Regions from separate parts of the Homo sapiens genome. Here region 1 is linked to region 2. The links come from fine-mapping of genetic effects on gene expression. Tissue or cell type: nucleus accumbens. Region 2 holds a variant in brackets; the other region holds the start of a gene. All regions are shown on one strand. Distances are from middle to middle.

The links. PIP is the estimated chance that this variant, and not a neighbour inherited with it, causes the effect.
Region 1: it holds the start of FIBCD1, and the variant in region 2 is fine-mapped to the expression of FIBCD1 in nucleus accumbens (GTEx, PIP 0.93).

What each region holds. Positions count from the first base shown.
Region 1 is chr9:130,934,100-130,944,903 of GRCh38, reverse strand. It overlaps FIBCD1 (fibrinogen C domain containing 1), which reads left to right and starts at 5,657. Exons shown (of 7, transcript NM_032843.5): 1 at 5,657-6,368. The coding sequence starts at 6,297. FIBCD1-AS1 (FIBCD1 antisense RNA 1) reads right to left here and starts at 4,558. Exons shown (of 3, transcript XR_930398.3): 1 at 4,462-4,558; 2 at 532-624. RefSeq lists silencers at 1,418-1,591, 3,508-3,802, 5,571-5,780 and enhancers at 3,360-3,579, 5,025-5,955.
Region 2 is chr9:130,887,612-130,897,155 of GRCh38, reverse strand. QRFP (pyroglutamylated RFamide peptide) reads left to right here and starts at 344. Exons shown (of 3, transcript NM_198180.3): 1 at 344-579; 2 at 1,175-1,459; 3 at 3,318-4,449. The coding sequence starts at 3,318. The coding sequence ends at 3,728. ABL1 (ABL proto-oncogene 1, non-receptor tyrosine kinase) reads right to left here. Exons shown (of 11, transcript NM_005157.6): 11 at 9,481-9,544. RefSeq lists enhancers at 849-1,535, 1,536-2,223, 3,012-3,526 and a silencer at 8,340-8,634. The variant C/T (reference allele first, on the strand shown) is at 4,793.

The sequences.
Region 1 (10,804 bases), 47 kb before region 2:
CCTCCCCACCTGTGCTGGACAGCTCCTTCTTCCCTTCCTGGACTTTGGTGTGGGGCAGGGCCCACTCTTTTCATTTCCCCAAACCATCACCAACACAAGACTACTGAGCAGGGAGGACTTTATACCAAGGACTGAAGGATAACGTATGGGATTCTGCAGCATGACACTGAAAATCACTTTCCATGCAAGAGCAAACATCCCCTGGTGTGTATGGCGTCAGTGCTGTGGTTCCCAGCACTGTGGTCCCTCCCCGGAATCCCAACTGCCTGGGGACTCTGCCCCCCACCTCATGCTCTCTCCCCTCCACCCCTCCACCCTTCCACCCCTCCACCCTTCCACCCCTCCACCCCTCCACCCCTCCACCCCTCCACCCTTCCACCCCTCCACCCTTCCACCCCTCCACCCTTCCACCCCTCCACCCTTCCACCCTTCCACCCCTCCACCCCTCCACCCCTCCACTCTTCCACCCCTCCAGCCCTCCACCCCTCCAGCCCTCTACCCTTCCACCCCTCCACCCCTCCACCCCTCCACCTGGGCATTTCTTGCTGGGTTTCCTGCAGCTTCTCCTCCCAGGTCAGCCCCTGAGCCTCTGCTTTTCACACCTAAATAGTCCATCAGGATGTTCTGCTGAAAAAAGAAAAAAAAAAAAAGCCAGTTTTCTCCCTAAGAGGAACTCTGCATCCAGCTTTTAAAATCACGTTTCCCCTTCCTGCTCTGCATTTATTGAGCACTGACTGTGTTAGAAGACCTTCGGTAAGTGCTAGGGACACAAAGACAGAACTGGCAGGTGCTGTCCTCACCCGGAGTGACCACGTTGTCCTGCTCCGGGGTTCTAGCCTCAGTCTTGACAGCCCAGCCTCGGACACATCGCAAGATGCCACACACAGCATCCCAGTGGGCTCAGGGCACAGACGCACCACCCATGCACCCATGAATTGACACACAGGCTGCACACACACACACACACACACTCACACACATTCTCTCCGTGCTAATTCTCGCCTTTGATCACGGCCTCTCGTCTGTCATCACCACTCAATGTTGACAAAGCAAAATAAAAAGAAAGAAAGAAAGAAATTCGCCCTGTCACTTGGACTCCCCCCCGACCCCGACCAGGCTTGGCAGCCCCCACCCCCACCCCCGCCTTTGTATTATGGGTTTATGTCAAGGTATGTTGGATTCTAAATTAAATGTCAGCCCACTGTACATTTCTGGCTCCAGCCGCAGAAAATGAGGAGCTGGCGTTGGAGACCATCCAGTCATTCAGCTCCCCGTGCCTAACCGTGAGGGGTGACAAGCCCATTGAATCACTGCACAGTAGTTTTCCACGCCACAGAAGCCAAGATACATTTATTTTTAATGATAAATGTGACTGTCAGAGTCAAGTTGAAACAGCTTTATGGCGAGAGCTGAGTACCCTTGGCAGTGCGGGGCAGAGGCTGAGTGGATGGGGACCAGAGGTCCCGACCTTCTGGCCAGCCAGTCCCCCAGGCCCCGAGAGACTGGCACATTGGCTATTCTGCCCACGTCCGCTAAGCCCTGCTGCATGCTGGCTCAGCACGCTCACCGGGTGGCTCAGGCCCAGCTCTGGCAGACGAAGAGGCACCGAGGTATTGAAGAAAGAGAGATAGTCTCTGGAAGTGCACACACTAGGGTTCAAATTCTGCCCCACCGGCCAGGCGCAGTGGCTCATGCCTATAATCCCAGCACTTTGGGAGGCTGAGGTGGGCAATTCATGAGGTCAAGAGATCGAGACCATCCTGGCCAACATGGTGAAACCCTGTCTCTACTAAAAATACAAAAATTAGCTGGGCGTAGTGGCGTGTGCCTGTAGTCCTAGCTACTTGGGCGGCTGAGGCAGGAGAATCGCTTGAACCCGAGAGGTTGCAGAGAGCCAGTGAGCCGAGATTGCGTCACTGCACTCCAGCCTGGCGACAGATCGAGACTCCGTGTTAAAAAAAAAAAAAAATTCTGCCCCACCAATGGCTGTGTGGTCTTGATTGAGTTACTTAACCTCTCTGAGCTTCTGTTGCCTCATCTAGAAAATGAGGCTATTAATAACACTTACAGGTCTTGGGTGAGGATTACTTGAAATAAGATGGTATTGTTAATGGTATTGCTGTATCCAGCACATGGAAATGTTTGGTAAATGGTAATTCCATATTGATTTTTTTTTTTTGAGACAGTCTCACTCTGTCGCCAAGGCTGGAGTGCAGTGGCACGATCTCGGCTCACTGCAACATCTGCCTCCCAGGTTCTAAGTGATTCTCCTGCCTCAGCCTCCGGAGTAGCTGGGATTACAGGAGTGCACCACCACACCTGCTAATTTTGTATTTTTAGTAGGGATGGGGTATCACCATGTTGGCCAAGCTGGTCTCGAACTCCTGATCTCAGATGATCTACCTGCCTCGGTCTCCCAAAGTGCTGGAGTTACAGGTGTGAGCCACTGTGCCTGGCCCCATATTGATCGTATCATCTTATTAATTACACAATTACCCAGGTCATGTAATTTACCTTTCTGAATCAGTTTCCTCATCCACAAAGTGGGGACAATAGTATTCACTTATTAGGGGGCTGGGAGGATATGAGGTGCCCAGCACAGCGCTGAGCGTGAGGGTGCTTCCAACAGGTGGCTGTTGGTCACGGCTGGCACCCTGAATGTTGTCCCCCTATGTCCCTTGCTGCTCTTCCTTGTCTCCCCATGGACTATTTTTCCACCCCTCCCATGTCGCCGTACTGCCTGCCCTGCACCCACTCCCTGCTAAGGGAGGGGTCCTGCATTAGGGCCCCAGCAGCCATGCCCCCACATTGGACCTGACCAAGGTCTGATGGGTTGGTACCTGACCAAGGACAGCTGTCTTTGGCCATCTGCCACTTATGATTGATATGCCTGGTTCAGTCCTAGATAGGAGTTGCCCATTGGTGGGGCCATCATATCCAGGTGGCCTTGGAAAGGCAAAGTAGGAACAGGCAGAATTGGTGAGCCAGAAAGAGGAAGGTGAGGGGATGCGCAGAGAGTGAACAAGTTACCAGGCAACCTCGAGTCTAATACCATGCAGCCTCCCGGTCCTGTGTTCTGGCACCCTGAGGTGCTGGCTCGTCCCTGACAAGGAATGCTCAGTCTTGGGCTGGCTGGAAAGCCCTGATTCTGTCCTGTCCCACCTGCTGAGCACAGCCCAGCTCGCCCCCAGTGCTCTGTGGTCATCAGCCTTGTCAAAGGGAAATCCGAGGGTGGAGGGCCTGTCTGCTCTGTGGGGTCGGCTGCCCTTTCTCTCGCACAGATCTTGGCTGTGGGTCAGCACTGGCTTCTGGGATCCACTTCCATTTTATTCCTCTCCACCAATTCGGAGGCTCCAGTGAATGGGGGCGGCCCTCCCTTCTTCCAGAACGATGTCCTAAGTGTGTCTGCTGAGTGCAGTGTGTAAAGCGCTGAGCAGACGCCTGCAGGCTCATGCCAGTCCTGCATCACGGCTGACCCTTCTCCTGGGGTGTTGAGCAGAGGCGTCAGCACAGAGGGGGTGACAGAGTGAGGCCCGCTCCCGAAGACACACACGTAAGGCACTCCCGCAGGCTGAACCTGTGGCTGAGCAGGTGAGATGATTCAACCTCCAACCTCCTCCAACACTCCCAGCAGGAGCCGCTAGGTGGCCCCCGCTCACCTGTCCAACCGCGCTTCTGCAGGCCCGGGAGGCGATCCTCCAGAGCGTCCTCCGGTCCTCCGGTTTGCACCTGCCCAGGTACGCCCGGGTCACTCCCCTAGCTCCGCCTTCCCTTCTGCGGCCCCGCCATTGGAAATGCCTTTCCTTCAGCACCCAGACTTCTGGATGCTGCCTTCATGGGCCTTGGGGGCGGGCTCACACCCCTCCATCCCAGGATGCCTCCCTGACTACTCTGAGCACATCTCCAAGACCTCCTCCGTTGGTCCTTAGCACCCCTCCCGTGGGTTCTCAGTTCAGCCCCCCACCCCCGCTCCACCCCCCAGGGTGATCTTTCATCTGTGCACAAATGCGTCTGGAGTTTACATCCTCTCGCCAAACTGTGGAGTCAGAGCCTTGCATTTCCGCCACCTGCCCGCTTTGTGCCTGTAACTGCACAAGGGCCTGCAAACCTCGCCACTCCCCACCAATAGGCAAGTCCTTGTTTACGAGGAAACTGAGGCTTGGGGATGACGTGGAATCTGCCCAAGGTCACAGCAGGAACATCTGAGCCTTGCCCTGCTCAGGTGCTGTGATGCACTGTGGCAGAGCCCTTCTGAAGCGTGTGCAGTCAACCCTTTGGCTTACATGGGGAAACTGAGGCTCGGAGAGGTATGTTGCTTGCCCTCAGCCACACAGCCAGGGCCCTGTGCCCTCCACCACATCCTTCTTCCCAAGTCTGAGGGCCCTCTAGATCACCTGCTGACCCTCTTAATTCATAGGAAAGGCCGAGGGGCCAGAAAGGGCCAGAGGCCAGAATTGGAACCTGGGTCTCCTGACTCCCAGCCATTGCTGTGGGATCCTCTCCAACTCCCGGGCAGCCTCAGTCCGGGAAGCCGGGATCGGGCCGTAGGTGAGGCCAGCGGTTGTCCTGGAAGGAAAAGGCGGCTGGGGACAAACAGCCGGTGGTTTGTGAACCCAGCGCCTGGCGGGTGGCAGTCTCCTCGGATGGCACCGGGCCACAGGGTCCCCCGCTCCGGGGTCCAGGGAGTGCCCCAGCCCAGGCTGGACGCGGCCCCCACCCCCAACCAGTCTGCCCCGCCAGTGCCGGACGCGTAGAGGGATCGGGAGAGGGACGAAGATGGGGCGACAGACTGGCAGCCAGTGGGGGAGAGACGGAGACGGTGCCAGGGAACAGCGCGGCGGCCAAGGCGCCCCGGGAGCCGGAAAACAGCTTTGGGGAGAAGCGGGGGCGGGGAACGGGGGTCTGTCTGGAGCTGGGGGAGCAGAAAAAGATGGGGACGCAGAAAGGGGCGGAGGAGGGGCGGCCGGCGGGCTCGGCGGGGCGGCGGGAGGGGAGCGCGGCGTCGGGCAGTGTGGGCGCCTCCCGGTCAGAAGCCACAATAGCAGCTCGTTCGCCGCGCAGATTAAGGACTTTGTCAATTACCTCCGAAGGCCGCTCCGGGCGGATTAAATGCTTTTAAAAGTGCTGCTGGTGGGAAGGGGCAACTAAGAAGCCCCCTCCTGGCACAAATCCCCTCCCGGCGGAGGAGAAGGCGGGGGCTGGGACCACGCGGGGCGCGCCGGGGAGCGCGGGCGATCGGCCGGGAGCGCGGCCGAGCGCGGAGCGGCTGGTACTCGCGACCACAGCGCCGGCGGCTGTGGCAGTGGTGGGGACCCCCATTTCGCCCACGGGCCGCCCGGGCAAGGGGGCGTCGTGTGGGCTTTCCGACCGCGGGCGCGAGGGCACGGGTCTGCGGACGCGGACTGGGACGCCCACCGGCCAGGCTCACGCGTCGGGGTCCGGCGCAGGGAGGTCCCCGGGGGCTGGAGACCCCACAGCTGGGCGCACTTGCCCCGGGACCTGGACCCAGACCTCGGGGGCCCGCAGGGGGCGCACCCCACCGAAACTGCCCCCGGCGCAGCCTGGGTCTTGGGGCGAGCCCTGCGTCCTGAGCCGGGAGGGAGCCGGAAGGAGCGCCGCGCCACTCCCCGGAGACGCCGAACCGGCCGGCGGGGGCGCCCTCGGGGCCCGCCCCGCGCATGGTGACTTGTGTGAGTCCGGTCCGGGAGGAAGTTTGTGCAGAGGCGCCGCCGGGGGGCTCTCAGGCCCCTCCGGGAGCCAGCAGGAGCCGGGCCGCCCGCGGCTGTTTGCTGCCCTCCGGCCGGCCGCGTTATCTGGGGGCCAGTTCGGCCTCCTTTCCCTAGGTCTTTTCGGAGGCGGAGTTTAGTATCCAAGTCCGCGGGTGTGAGCGCGCGCGTGTGTGTGAGTGTGTCGGGGGAGGCCGAGGGGAGCAATAAAAAGCAAAGAGAGTCCGAGACCAGAAAAGATGCGGAGATTGAGAAGGAGGGAGGAGGGACGAGGGAGGAGAGAGAGGAGCGCGCCGGGGAGGCGCCGGAGCCGGGAGCGGGGACGGCGCGCAGCGCGAGCGGCGGGCGTTGGGCTGGCGGCTTTCGCGCTCCCGCTCCTGCTCCCGCCCGCACACAGCGGCGCGCTCATCCTCACACGCCCGCCCGCTCCCGGGCCGCCCCGGCGCGGGGCACAGAGGCGGGGACCCGGCGGACAGAGCGCGCCCCGCGCCCGCGCCCGCGCCCACCCCGTCTCCTTTGCGCTCCGCAGCGGCGCGCCTCGCCCGGCGCCCCCGCCAGTCCTGCCGGAAGATGGTCAACGACCGGTGGAAGACCATGGGCGGCGCTGCCCAACTTGAGGACCGGCCGCGCGACAAGCCGCAGGTACGCTCGGGCGCTGGGACACGGGGCCTGGGCGGCTGGCCAGGCGGTGGCCGCTCGGGCCGGCGGGGCGAGCACCCATTGCGGGGGCTGGAGTTTGGGGCGCACCCCTTCGAGGCTCCGGAGGCCCGGGCCGGGATGGGGACCCTCCTCTCCTCCTCCCCGAGCCGAGGCTTGAACTCGAGGTTCGGTGGGGGCGGCACCCCTGCAGGAGCCACGCGCGCTGCGGGCCAGGTCTCCCGCGTCCCCGCACCCCCAGCAGCCCCCTGGTGCACGCGGGTGCAGAGGGAGGCGGGGACTTACAGTTCGCTGTGTGTCCACAGACAAATCAGCCCCGTTGCTGAGTCTCCGTTTCCTCACCTCTACAATGGGCATCTTAACTACCCACAGAATCTCCACTCTGGGCGCTACCCTGTGCCAGGCACCTGGTCCTGAACCTGACCCCCTGAATCTCCTCTGCATCCTTCCCTTTAGCCAGGGCCCTGCATACAGTAGGGGATCAATAAAGATTCATCTCCTGCAGGAACGCTGGGTATTGTGATTTTCTGACTTTAAGACAAGGAAAGCAGGGCTCAGAGATGGTTGGCTCCTGCCTGAGGCCACGCAGCTCTGTCGGGATTTGAACCCTTGTCTGTGTGCTCCAGGGCTGACTCATTCCTCCCTTCCTGCTGCCTCTTCAGGGGCAGTGGAGGTGGGGCTTGGAGGGTGCCCAGGGCTGTGCGGTGGAAGCGGGTGAGGGCAGAACACCTGGGCTGGCCAGCAAGGGGGCTGGAGTCCCGAAGCCAAGGCGGAGGGGAGCCCCAGGGCTGCCCCAGGCTGGGCTGCCAAGGGACTGGGGCAGGCAGGCGAAAACGAGGAGGCCGCTCGCTCACCAAGGAGAGGAGAGAATAGGGCTGCCCATTTTAAATTTTAAATTTCTTCCAGACAGATGTCATTGGGGAAGGAACAGTTCGTGCTTGCAGCTGCAGGAGGGGGCGGCACGGGCAGCCCTTGGTGGTCCCTTCCTCTCAGGAGCTGCAACCTGCTCATTCTTCCTGGTGTGACACTGCCGTGGCACAAGGGCCCAGCCCTCTGCGGTTTGCAAAGCCCCTTCCCATTCATCGGCACTACCTCACTTCTCCAAACAGGCTGGGGGCCAGTGCGTTCCCACATCACAGACCAGGGATCAGAGAGGTTCGGAACATGCCCAAGTCACACAGCACGTTGGCAAGAGAGTGGGGATTCAAACTCTGGTCTAACCACACACCTATCCCACTGCTTCTCCGGGGTGGTCGCGCCCCTCTTTTAGGTCAGGTCTGCACCTAAGCCACCCCAAAATAACAAGTCCCCTCCTGCTGAGATCTGACTTCTCCCCCTTAGCAAGAACTGTCTTAACTTCTAGACCTGTCCTCCAAGGCCATCCCTAACCTGGCATACTGTGCCTTCCCATTGGTCCCTTACAGGCAGTGACTGTTTGTTATTTGCCAACCCTGGGCCCCACACCACGCCGCTCCATTTCCAGATCTTTTCTGTGTCATCTTGTTTGCTTCCCCAGCCTTACACAAACACACACACACACACACACACCCCTTCACTCAGGGACACCCTACATATACTCAAAATCAAGCTCAAATGCTGCCACCTCCTCCAGGAAGACTTCCTGATGCCCTGTGGCTATGTCTCTAAGTTCTAGTAGTGTTTAGCCTGTGCCACTCAGCTGCCTTGTCCTGGGCCCCTCCTGCATCAGGAGATCCCTTTGGACACACCCTCCTCTGGAGCCCATCTCTGCATCTCTCCCTGGGCCCAAGCTCCATTCTTTCCAGGCAGCTCAGGTCAGGCATTGAGAGCGTTTGCTGAATGGCACTGCATGACGCTTCGGCCAGGAAGAGCCTCAGGAGACGGCCAGCAGGCACTGGTCTGTCTCAAGGGGAGGTGCCTTCTGGGGAATGTGTTTGAAATGTGGCTTCAAGGCCTCCAGGCCGGGCCCCGCCTTCCTCTGCTGCTCCCTGGGGGCACAGCTTTCAGCCCCCACACAGCCCAGCTGTCTGCCCCTTGGCATTGGAGGAAGCTCGAGGGCTGTTGCTCCAAGAGCCTGGGCCAATAGCAAGCACCCGCTTCCCCTCCCCGCCCGTTTGGTGACCCAGCATGTAGACAGGCTGTTCCCTGTGCCAGCTCTGGGCTTGTTTGAAGCTTCAGACAAGAGGCAAGGCCTTTCCTGTGGCCACTGTCAGAAGAAAGAGAGAACACTGCTTGCCCTGGTTCCCTTGGGCCTGCCCTCTCCTGGGCCAGCCTTCTCTCCTCCCTTGTGGCCAGGTTTGTCTCACCCACTGACATGCTGTGTGGCCCTGGGTAAGTTACTCCTCCTCTCTGGGCCTGGGCTTCACCATCTGTAAAGTGGGAACAGCAATCTTCGCTTCCTCCTCATTTCACAAGGGCTGTTATGGGGGCCACGTGACATACTGGTGTGTTTTGCAAACTGCAAAGCACTGTGTACTCATGAGGAGGATGCCTCTCGCAGCAGCCTGTCCCTTCCACAGGCTGGCTGTGTCCCGGTCTCCTCTCTGCCCCCCAGGAAACGCCATCTGAACATCTGGTTCCTACAAACGGGGCCTGGCCGAGGTTCTTTAACGGGGATTTTCCTCTGGGAGCATAACGCTGACGCCGCACTCCAAGCACCAGTAGGTCACAGGCCACGACTAAGATTCATTTCTTAGTCACAGCCACCCTAGGAGCTTGGTGGCAGGAGTGATGAACCCATTTGACAGATGAGGAAACTGAGACTAAGAGCTGGAGCTGGGACTCAAACCTGGGTCTTCTTGGACAGCAGACAAGTGCCTAAGGGGTGGCTGGCCGCCCTTTCTTGGTTCAGCCCACTCAGCCCCAGTTGGGACTGCAGTGTCCAGGCTGTGTGGTTCTCAGGGTACCGAAATCACCCGCTGTGAGTGGGTATAGCCCAGGTCCGGAGGTCCTGAAGGACCTTTGTCCAAGTGCAGCCATTTCTGGGAAACGCCTTGGGCCCCATCTGTCCCAGCCCTATCCAGCCTCAGCTACTCTTTGTCGGGCGACCTTGGACAAGTTGCCGATTTGGACTTTGTTAATGCGTCCTCCCTCTCCCTACAGAAGGAGGAGCCTCTCACGCCCTTGGGGCAGGGTGAAACGGTATTTGCCAGGAGTTTGGAGTTTGTCAGATGAAAGGATCTAGAAATAGACATGATTCTTCTGGTCTTGGAGCTTGGGGCAGGAAGTCACTCTGCAACCGTTTCCTCTGGTCAGAGGGGCTTGTTTCTGAGCTGTCTCCAAGCCACCCTACAGGGAGGTCAACTTCCAACCCATCCCAGGCAAGATCTCTTGACGCTTTCAAAATTTCTAAGAACATTTCAGAAAGGAAGAAAGAAAATCTCTTTGGGAAGTTCTTCCTGATGTCTAACCTAAATCCCTGCTGCATTAAATTTACTCAGTGACTATTTAGGGAGGCCCTACCTAATGCTAGGAGGTATAGTCTGGTGGATACAGTCTGTGCCTCAGGGAGCTTAGAGTCTCACGGGGGGAACAAACTCACAGGTCGGGGCGATTGCAAACCATCATGGGTTCTGGAAGATCCATGCCTCTTTCTTCTTGTTCCCTGGGGTTTGGGTTGAGGTCACTGTGCTAGGCTTGGGGTTTCCCAAGCCCCTCCTTCTGAGCTCACTGTTTAGCTGGGGAGTGGTGTGGCTGAGGAGGTAGAATGGACAGGAGCAGGTGACTATCCAGATGTTGGGTGAGGGAGGGAGACCTGAGGAGGTGCCAGCTTTGTGGGGGCAACAGGTAGGGTTGGTGCCATCCCCGAGTGAAAAATAGGAGGGCTCAGGTTTGGGGTGGAGAGACGCTGGTTTGGGCCTCAGTGGGCTTGAGGCCCCAGTGGGCCCTCTGGGAGGCCAGAGCTGTATGTCGCGGGGAGGGTGGGCAAGACCCTTATAGGAAACATCTGGAGAAGCCCCCTCCGTGGTTCAGAGCAAATGCTCCCAGGAAGTGAGACAGCTGGGGGGCTTGGAACCTCCCGGAGGGGCAGAGGCTGGGAGCTCTGTGGGGCGCTCTTGTCCCCTTGGACACCTTCAGCCCCTCCTGCGCCCCTCCCTGTGGCCTGAGACGCCAGATGGCCCTCGGCAGGGTTCTGCTGAAGGGTCCCCAGCGGTATGGCGGTTCCCGCTCAGATCTCACAGAACAAGCCTGCAGACCCCCTTCCTAAGTCTTTGGGACCCCAGAATGGTGAGCAGAGCCACCAACCCTTCACCCCCAGGGGAGTCTCTGGGACCCTCCCTCTGCCAGGGCCAGGGCTCAGAGTTCAGCCCTTACTGGGAGCCATGTGCCCAGCCATGTGCCAGCCGGGAGCAGAGTGGGCTCCTGGGGAGACAGGAGGAATTCCCCTGAGGCTCTGGCCTGAGGCAGGGCCCAGTCCCCTCAACCCACAGAGCCCATAAGCC
Region 2 (9,544 bases):
GGTGCCTGTAGGAGAGGGGTGCCTGCGGGATTGGACCCCATGTTGCCTTCCCCAACTTCCATGGCCATTCCTGAGGAATTCTGCAAAGCACAGCTTGGGAACTTGAACCTCGCTTTACACCAAGGGAGCACTGAGGCACCCAGAGGGCAGGCATCCGGTCCAGGCTCATAGCACGGTAGAGACCCACCCTGGGCGGCACCCCATGGATAACTGGTGCCCGCTGTCAGAATCAACCAGCACTAACCAGGGAGACAGAAGGACACCACACCTCCCGTCTCACGAGCACACACACGTGTACGCACGTGTGCACATACTCATGTGGGGGCATACACACACATGCACACACAGGACAGGGGCACCTCAGGCCATCGGAGGCAGCCCTGGCCTGGGGGATGGAAGCTGGTTCTGGCCAGCAAAGCTCAGTCATCGGCTTCAATCCGCAGACCCTCCGCCCGAACCTGGGCGCTCAGCCCCGAAGTGGAGGATCGAGATTCCAGTGCCTTCCTCAGGTCTCTGGGGAAGTGTCCACAGGCTCTCTATTCCCATGACTTCTGATCCCCCAGCAGCCGGGATGCAGGGGTAGGTCGGCTGGGTGAGGGCCCCTGGAATGGGGGAGGCCCTCTGTGCTCAGTTCCTGACAGTGGTGGGGTGGGGCTGCCTCATCACCCCCCTGCCTGCTCTCAGTGGAGGGAGAATCTCTGCCGGGCAAGGAGCAGAGGCTGGGTCCTCCTGCTGGCCTCCCAGAGGTGACCCTCGGTGACAGTAGGGGGCCACCCAGGGTATGCGGTGGGAGGGGCTGGGGGCCACAGGCAAATGCTCCACTGCTGTCCTGGGCATCTGCCGTGCCCCCTTGGTTGGTTCCTGGGTAACAGGCCGCTGAGGGCTCCACCTGCCGGGGAGGTGCACCTGGCTTAGCCGCGCAGCCCGGTGCCTGTGAAACACGGGCCTCATGGGTGTCTGTGGCTTTCCTGCCCATGAAAGCCATCCTGCAAGCTGGGCAGTAGGTGTGTCGGGTAGATGTCCACCCACCCCATGTCCTCTCCGGAGCGTGAGGTGCCAACCCAGCAAAGGCAGGACCCTTAGGGTGAAGGGTGGGCTTGGAACCCCCGCCAAGGGACTCGAGGGTCTGTGCCCGCAATTTGCAGTTAATGATGCTGTCTGCTCTCCTCCAAAGGGCAGCCCGCCTGCCCTCTCATCAGACTACATCCTGTGTGAGGTTGTTTTTATCAACGCGGTCAGCACTGCCCCTCTTCAACAACAGCGTCCCCAATGGAATCCCAGGGTCAGGAATGCGCAGCAGGCAGTCGGCAGAGCAGCAAGCGCACCGCGGGCCATATAAAGCAGGGAGAGCCCAGGGGCCATGCCTCCTGGACGAGGACCCAGAGCAGCTCTGCCCAGCCCAGCCCCGGAGCCCAGCGATCCACCAGCCAGCCTTCCTGGGAGCAGTCCCAGCCACACGGTGAGCATAGCTGCCCTGTCCCCAGCAGGAACCCCAGCTCAGGCCCTGCCCAGGCAGGAGCCAGGCATGGGCAGTCAGAGGGCACACAGAAGCACAGGGAGGGAGTGCCCGGAGAGGGGACACCAGTGCCTCCCCTGCCAACAGCCCAGAGCAGCACAGATTGGTCACGGCTGCCCTGCCAGGGCTGGGACCCAGCCTCACCCGTGCTTTTCCTGTCCCTTCCTGGCTGTGGGGCCTGAAGCCCTGACTCGCGCTGGGGCCGCCTGTCCCGTGATGAGCATCCCCACTTTCTACCAGATTCTTGAAGGGGTGCATGAACCCCTAAAAGGGGTGAAGGGCCACTCCAGGGCCTGCTCTGTCAGGCTGTCTCCTTTCTAGACACCCAGAGGCCACTCCCGGGTGGATTTATCCACCAGGATGCAACGGTCCCTGGTCCACATCGCAGTCAGCAAAGTGCTTCCTATGGGGAGGAGGGAATGGGCTGGGCCGCTGCAGAAAGTCACCTCGTGGAAGCCCCCACTCTGCCTGCGCCCTGATGGAAAGGTTTTCCTGGCAGCATGAGGGAGGTCACTCCATCCCTGGGGGACGAAAGCTTAGAAGAACTGGATTTGGGTAGAAAGTGGGGTTGCATGTATTATTTTTTTAAAAGCTTCCTGGCTGAGCTCGCTTCTTTGAAATGTGTTCGAGGGAGCCATTTCTGGAAAGGGCTCTGGGGACTCCTGTACTGTCTTCTCCAGGGCCGGTGCTCTCTAGTCTAGCCTCAGTTTGACTCTGCGGAGGACAAGCCAGCTCCAGCTCCCCCGCGGTCATTGTCAAAAAGGTTTTCTTTGCCAGACAAGGGAGCAAGTGTTACCAAGGCAGGTTCATTACAGGAGGCTGGGTTTCAGATCCCCCGAGTGCCATGTGGAGTACAGAGGAGGGAGTTAGGGCACGCCTTCCTGAGTCAAGCCCAGTTAGACCTGGGATTGAACTCTAGCTCTGGCACTGATAAGGCCATGAGATCTGGGGCAAGTCACCTCAGCTGTTTGAGACCGACACCACCCCTGTGAAATAGGAGGGTTGGGAGTACCTAGCAGATATGTATGCTTCTTGAAGAAGCCGTCTGGCCATTAGAATCATGAATCCAGAGCCTCCACTTTCTGGCTGTGTGGCCTGGGCACAATCTCAGTTTTTCTGACAGTTTTGTTGCCTGAAAAAGTGGGACTGGCCGGACCTACCAAGCAGGAGTACTATGAAGATGAAGTACAATCACATGTGTGAGCTCTTGGCTCAGAGCCTGGCAGACCTACGGTGCCCAGGCCCCAGTGGTGTCCACACACTCCTTCCCAGGTGGGTGTCCGAATTAGGCCAGGACCATCCAATCTGTTTCTGGCTTTCAGGAGCAACTCGTTCCCACGTGAAAGAGACATTAGCAGGATGTCCCAGCTAAACAGCATAGCTAGACCCATTTATTATCCAGTTGAACACTAAGGGAGATTGATGCTTTTAACTTTCCACCCCATGGCTCTGCAATGATATGGCCATTTTATAATAAGAGAAAAATGAGCATACATTTGCTGACTCTCCCGGGGCCGCCTGGGCACTGCTCTGCCAGCCAGCAGCGGTGGATTTACGGTGCTAAGCTGCCCAGGCACGCAGATCGTGGGGACTGCAGGAGAAGAACCGGCCTAACTGGCACAATCACCTCCTGATCCTGCTAATAAAACAGTGGCCTAGTCCCAGCACTGCTCGGAAGCCGGGCTCAGCTGAGCCCCCTGCTCACATCTACGCTGCCAGCCTGTCCCGGGGAAACATTTTGGTGAGTTGCGCTTGGCCACGTGTGCAGCCTGTCACTCTGCCTCTCTTTCCTCTGGGTCAGATGGTAAGGCCTTACCCCCTGATCTACTTCCTCTTCCTGCCGCTGGGCGCCTGCTTCCCTCTACTGGACAGAAGAGAGCCCACAGACGCCATGGGTGGCCTCGGAGCTGGAGAACGCTGGGCCGACCTGGCCATGGGGCCCCGACCCCACTCCGTGTGGGGTTCCTCTCGGTGGCTGAGAGCTTCACAGCCACAGGCCCTGCTTGTCATAGCCAGGGGGCTGCAGACATCGGGCAGAGAGCATGCTGGCTGCAGATTCCGCTTCGGGAGGCAGGACGAAGGCAGTGAGGCCACCGGCTTCCTCCCTGCTGCGGGGGAGAAGACCAGCGGCCCGTTAGGGAACCTGGCTGAGGAGCTCAATGGCTACAGCAGGAAGAAAGGCGGCTTCAGCTTCCGCTTCGGTCGGCGGTGAAGGGCCAGGACGCCTTGGAAGGATTTGCTTCTTGGACTCACCCCCATTGTCTTCACTCCTGCCTTCTCCCCCAGTCTCAAAGACCACGACACCCAGATGATGTAGGCTTGGTTACGATGAACGATCCATGGTAGGACAGGTTAGGTGTGTGCTTACTTTTGATTTCCAACTTTGCTGAAGCGAAAAACTAGGCAGTGTCAAAAAGGAGGCTGTCTTGGAGCCTCGGTCGTCCCAGCCTCTCTCTTCCCCTGGGGCTTTGACTCCGAGCAGCCCCCTGGCCCCAGGGGCACGGAGCTGAGGCTGTGGCTGGGCCATGAGTGTGAATAGCAGAGCGAGGCAGCGGGCTGAGTGCTTACAGTTGGGTAATCAAAGTTGTGACAGTCTCTATAGGCACGACTGCGGCTGACATCAGAGTGCAAATGAGTGCATTCCACTGGGTACAGAGGATGGTTCTGAAAGTTAAAAATGGGAAAAAAGAACCCGATCCCCTTCTCCATGCCATGAGCACAAGATCCCCCTGGCAAGAAGCCCCTGCTGTGGTTTGCCTGCCCCTCTGACCGCAGCCCTTCTCCGCGGCCCAGTGTTAGCCCGGCCAGGAGTCTCCTGGGAGATGCGTTGGGAAGGAATCCCGTTTTTGCTATAGCAAGGTTGCATTTCACATGTTCAAAATCAGAATATGTCGTGTGTATCTTTTCAAATAAAAGTTGTGACAACTGCAAAACCATACTGGAATGCTGGCCTCCCCCACAGTCTGAGTTCTGGGTGCCTTGCCTTTCGGGAGATGGAGCTCCTGTTGACTGGACCCAAACACCCCTCCTCTAGATCCCTGTAACCGGCAGTCGGTCAAAGGGGCGGAGGAACACAGCACATGTGCTTTTCACTTCCACTCGGCTGCTCCTTCCCAGGTTTCCTAAGAGCAAGGAACATTCGGAAAACAACTTCTCTGCCCCGGGGAGAGCCCACGCTCAGCCGGGAGTGGCTGCAGGCCCGGGGCCAGGCAAAGCATCTGTTTCAAACGCGCCTTTGGTGTCTCCTGCATCCCATCCCGTGTCAGAGGCGGCGGT[C/T]GGATGCTGCTCACTCCCGGGCTGGCTTCCGCTGCTGAGATGAGAACTTACATTGATGTTACTATGGCAACCCCTCCCCTCCTCCTTTCGAGCTGCAGCTTGCCCCTGTTCACAATTGAATAATTTCCCATTGAGCTGTCACAATTAATTGGTGGATTTTTATTAGCCTTTTAGAACCACACTGGGCTGGGCCCAGCTTGGCACCTTGGAGTATTTCACAGTGTTTTCCATGCTATTAGTGACTTATACTCCTCAGTAGCAGCTCTCAATCCTTGGCAGCCAGAAAGCCACTTCATTAAGGGGTGACAGATCTGAGCCACAAAGAACCAACCTGACTGGGGAGCAGAATGGGTGCTGAGATGGGAGAGAACACCAGAGTCAGAACATCACCCGGTATGAAAGCTGCCACCTTCTCCAGGAGCTCCTCACCGCTTCCCCATCGCTTCCCACACAGAAACTAGCCCCCCAGGCTTGGCGCATGTGCCCTGAGTCTTAGGGCTGCTGTGATGGGGACAAGACAATGATTCCTGAGGCTGGTGGAGGGGTGGGGCACATTGTTCTCTTGGGCTCTGCCACTGTCTGAGGACAGAGTGGTTCAGGATGCCTCCTGCAAAGGGATGTTGTCACTGCTTGCTAACATGACACTGATGGGGACGGACACATCCCCGGGGTCCTTGCTGTAAGGACGGCCCTGGCACAGGGTGAACGGACAGATTCGTTCACCACAGGTGTGCACACACACCCCATTCTGCTTGGCTTAAGGGAGGGGGAGGCAGTAAGCTAGATCTATCCCTCCCTTGGCTCATTCACGCAAAGCAGCCAGAGATGTGCTCACCAGAGACCGGGTGAAACACAGCAGGCTGAGGGCAGAGGGACGCCCTGACGCACGGTCCCCTGGCCACTCGTCACTTGCCAACTTCTGCAAGTGAGCAAGGAGCCACCCACAGCCAGTACTTTAGAGAACACCGAGGCTGAGCCACCCTGCACATTCCACAGGCTCTTTGGGGATGCACTGGCTGGTTGTTAATTTAGCAGGATTAGATTAACCTTGATGGAAAAACCTGAGATAAAGAACACGGGGGCGGGGGATGCCTTCAAAGCAGTGGATATGCTGTCATTATGCTTTTATCACTTTAAAAAACCCAACAAAGCTATTCTTTCCAGTTTGCTTGTACACTTGAGCTCAGTAGCCCTGAAAATCCGAACAATCAAGCTGCTAAGGGCACTGCTGTCAAATCAACTCCCGCTGGGCTTGGCTAAGCCTCCTCTTTAACCCGGTGCCCCGCGGCCAAGCCCACCGTGTCTGTCAAGGTCTTTGGGCCTCTCATGCCACCCCAGCGCCCCCTCAGCCCTTGCTCTCTCCTCCACAGATAAGATTACCCCTCTCCAGGAGGGTGAAGTTGAGACTCCAGAAAACATTTATTTTGGAATCAGAGAGATGAAGCTCCCCTGAGCAGTGCTGGCTCACTCCACCTGGCCCGGCAGTTCTAACTACTCCAGCCCAGAGCACCTGCGAGCTGCCAGCATCTGCTCGTTACATTTATCCAAGACACAAGGCGGTCTTCATCTTGGTGTGTAGATCTAAAGGTATTTAGCTATCAAGATGAATGGAAAACATTTGTCTTTTCCTGTATGTTTGAAATACTAATAAAAATATTTAAGAAAAAACCCCAAACAAAACAGGCTCCTGGGGACAGTCAGCCATAGACAGCTGCTGTAGTAATCAAGAGGGAAGCCACCTCATCCTAACTTTGCCCCAGTGCCAAAGACGCTGCTTGACAGATTTCACTGAAGACCCCAAACCTGACATGGTACTTTCCAGCTTCTGGGTAGGGAGCAGGGGCATGCCCTGTGCTGCTGGTGCTCCTCCAATCCGCAGCTCCTTGGCCCCTCGGAAATGCCCTCCCAGAAAAAGAGCTCAGAGATTTCCCTGATTACAGCAGTGATATCAACTGGAGTGTGGGGGCAGGGGAGCAAGACATTAGGTGACCCCCAGGGACGAGGGCAGTGCTGACAGGGACACTGTGGTCAGCCTGGTCTCACCTAATGTCTTCTCGTACGAGGACGTTTAGAGTTTGCTTCCCCAGGGCACTCCGTTTAGAAAGGCCTCCTGAGATGATCTCTGCGGCCCAAGGAGCTGGGCTGGCTGTAATACTTGGCTGCTTCTCTTCCACTGTGGAGGGAGAAATCCGGCCCTGGGCACAGTTCTCTCCTGGTCCTGTTGGGGCTGTCTGCACTGTCTACTGATTAGACTGCCGTGGTAGGCACCAGCTGGTACATGTTGTGTGACCTTGGCCGAGCTGCTTGACATCTCTGAGCCTCTCAGCTTCCTTACCTGTCAGAGGAGGACAGTAACAAAAACTCTCTCATTAAAAAAAGTGGTGGGCTTGGCCGGGTGCGATGGCTCATGCCTGTAATCCTAGCACTTTGGGAGGCTGAGGTGGGTGGATCTCGAGGTCAGGAGATAGAGACCATCCTGGCTAATATGGTGAAACCCCGTCTCTACTAAAAATACAAAAAATTAGCCGGGAGTGGTGTCGGGCACCTGTAGTCCCAGCTACTTGGGAGGCTGAGGCAGGAGAATGGTATGAACCTGGGAGGCGGAGCTTGCAGTGAGCCGAGATGGCACCACTGCACTACAGACTGGGCGACAGTGTGAGACTCGTCTTAAAAAAAAAAAAAAAAAAAAAGTGGTGGGCCGGGCGCACTGGCTCATGCCTGTAATCCAAGCACTTTGGGAGTCCAAGGTGGGCGGATCATGAGGTCAAGAGATCGAGACCATCCTGACCAACATGGTGAAACTCCGTCCCTACTAAAAATACAAAAATTAGCCGGGTCTGGTGGTGCGCACCTCTAGTCCCAGCTACTCGGGAGGCTGAGGCAGGAGAATCGCTTGAACCCAGGAGGCAGAGGTTGCAGTGAGCGGAGATTGTGCCATTGCACTCCAGCCTGGGAGACAAGAGCGAAACTCTGTCTCAAAAAGAAAAAAGAAAAAAAAATTTTTTTTGAGACAGGGTCTCACTCTGGAGCTGGAATCCAGTGGCACGATCATAGCTTGCTGCAACCTCCACCTCCTGGGCTCAAGCAATCCTCCCACCTCAGCTTCCTGAGTAGCTGGACTACAGGTGCCACCATACCCAGCTTATTTTTGTATTTTTTGTGAGATGGGGTCTATGTTGCCCAGGCTGGTCTTGAACTCCCGGCCTCAAGCAATCCACCCACCTCAGCCTCCCAAAGTGTTGGGATTACAGGCATGAGCCACCTTGCCTGGCCTTTTAAGAAAATGTCCAATACCTTAGGCTGGTGTTTTGTAAATAATAACAATGGACCTCGAAGGCAGGACTTGAAATGACCTGGAAACTGCTGGGTGTGTGCACACAGGTGCATTTTTCTGGGGCTGGGATCCAGTTTTCATTAGGTTCTCAGGAGGTTTTGTGACCTAGAAAAGGTTAAGAAACCACTGTCTTGGAATGGCTAGACTAAACTAAGCTCTATAAGCTCAGGTGACACCCATGAAAGATCCCCATTTGGGAGATGAGAGGCGTCTTCCTCCACACTGGCCCAGTGTGACCAATTGGCCTCACGTGCAGGAGCCGACTCTGGACACGCAGTCTCAGCGCTTAGCGCTGGGAGGGCGGGGTGACCGTCCACATCTGACACGAGGAAGCGGCCACCAGCTGTGGCTGTCACCAGAGTTGTCCTATGTCTTCGTTCAGACCTGGGAGAAGCAGCCATTCAAAGGACAAGAGAAGCCCCAGGCTTGGTGGATCTGGTGGCCAGCTATGGTTCAACCGGCAAGGAAATTGGGGGCCCCAGCCTGGTTTTGTCCCTGTGAAATGAGAGGGGGAGAATCTTGTGCCTGGCACTGCTCGCAGTGGGCTCCACCAGCCCCGGCCCGGCTGGAGTTCCACCTGTCACCCACCGCACAGCAGTCTCGCTCCAGGTCTCTCGAGTGGAGCTTCACCAAGCTGTGATCTTCATATGCTCTGCTGAGCAGGATGTGCACCCCTGACAAACCTGCTGGCCTGATCAGTATCATTATCAGAGGGTGCTACTCACTTCCCAACCGCCCCTTTCCAAGCTGTCAGCTCGGTGGGGACTGAGCTGGGAAAGGGCGGTGGGGCTCAGTCTGGGATGGCCTTCCCAGGCCCTGAAGGCCCAGCACACCTCACACCTCCGCTCCTCCTCATCCACACAAAGACCTAAGACACCTGGCTCAAGGAACATGAGTGAGTAAGGGCACCTGGGGGCTTAGGGCGGAAAGGTGGAGAGAGAACAGGCGCACGTGGGGAGGGATTTGCCCTCAGCCAGCAAGAAGCACGGGACGTGACCTCCTCACCCCACTTCCACGTCGCTGCGACAGCCTGATACCGCCAGTCAGATGTGGCTTGTATGGTGGCACAGCCCACTCCCAGTGATGCCGGTGGGGCCAGGCTGCCAGCAGGTAAGCGCCAAGGGTACAGAAAGGGTCCGAGCATAGCAGGGCAAGTGCCTGAAAGATGGCTGTGGGCACCCAGGCCGCAGAGGCCCTGGGCAGCTGGGGGCAACCTGCCACCGTTCTGCTCTGTAAGACCTGATGCCGGGCCCCAGCCCCGTCGGGAAACCAGAACCCACTACATCCCGGCCCCGCCACCGCACAGGCTCAGAACAACAGGGCAGGATCACAGGCCGAAGCAATCTGCCAAGAATTCTAATGTAAACACTGATTTATTTAAAAAATACTACAGAGGACAGATTTGGATTCAAAAAAAA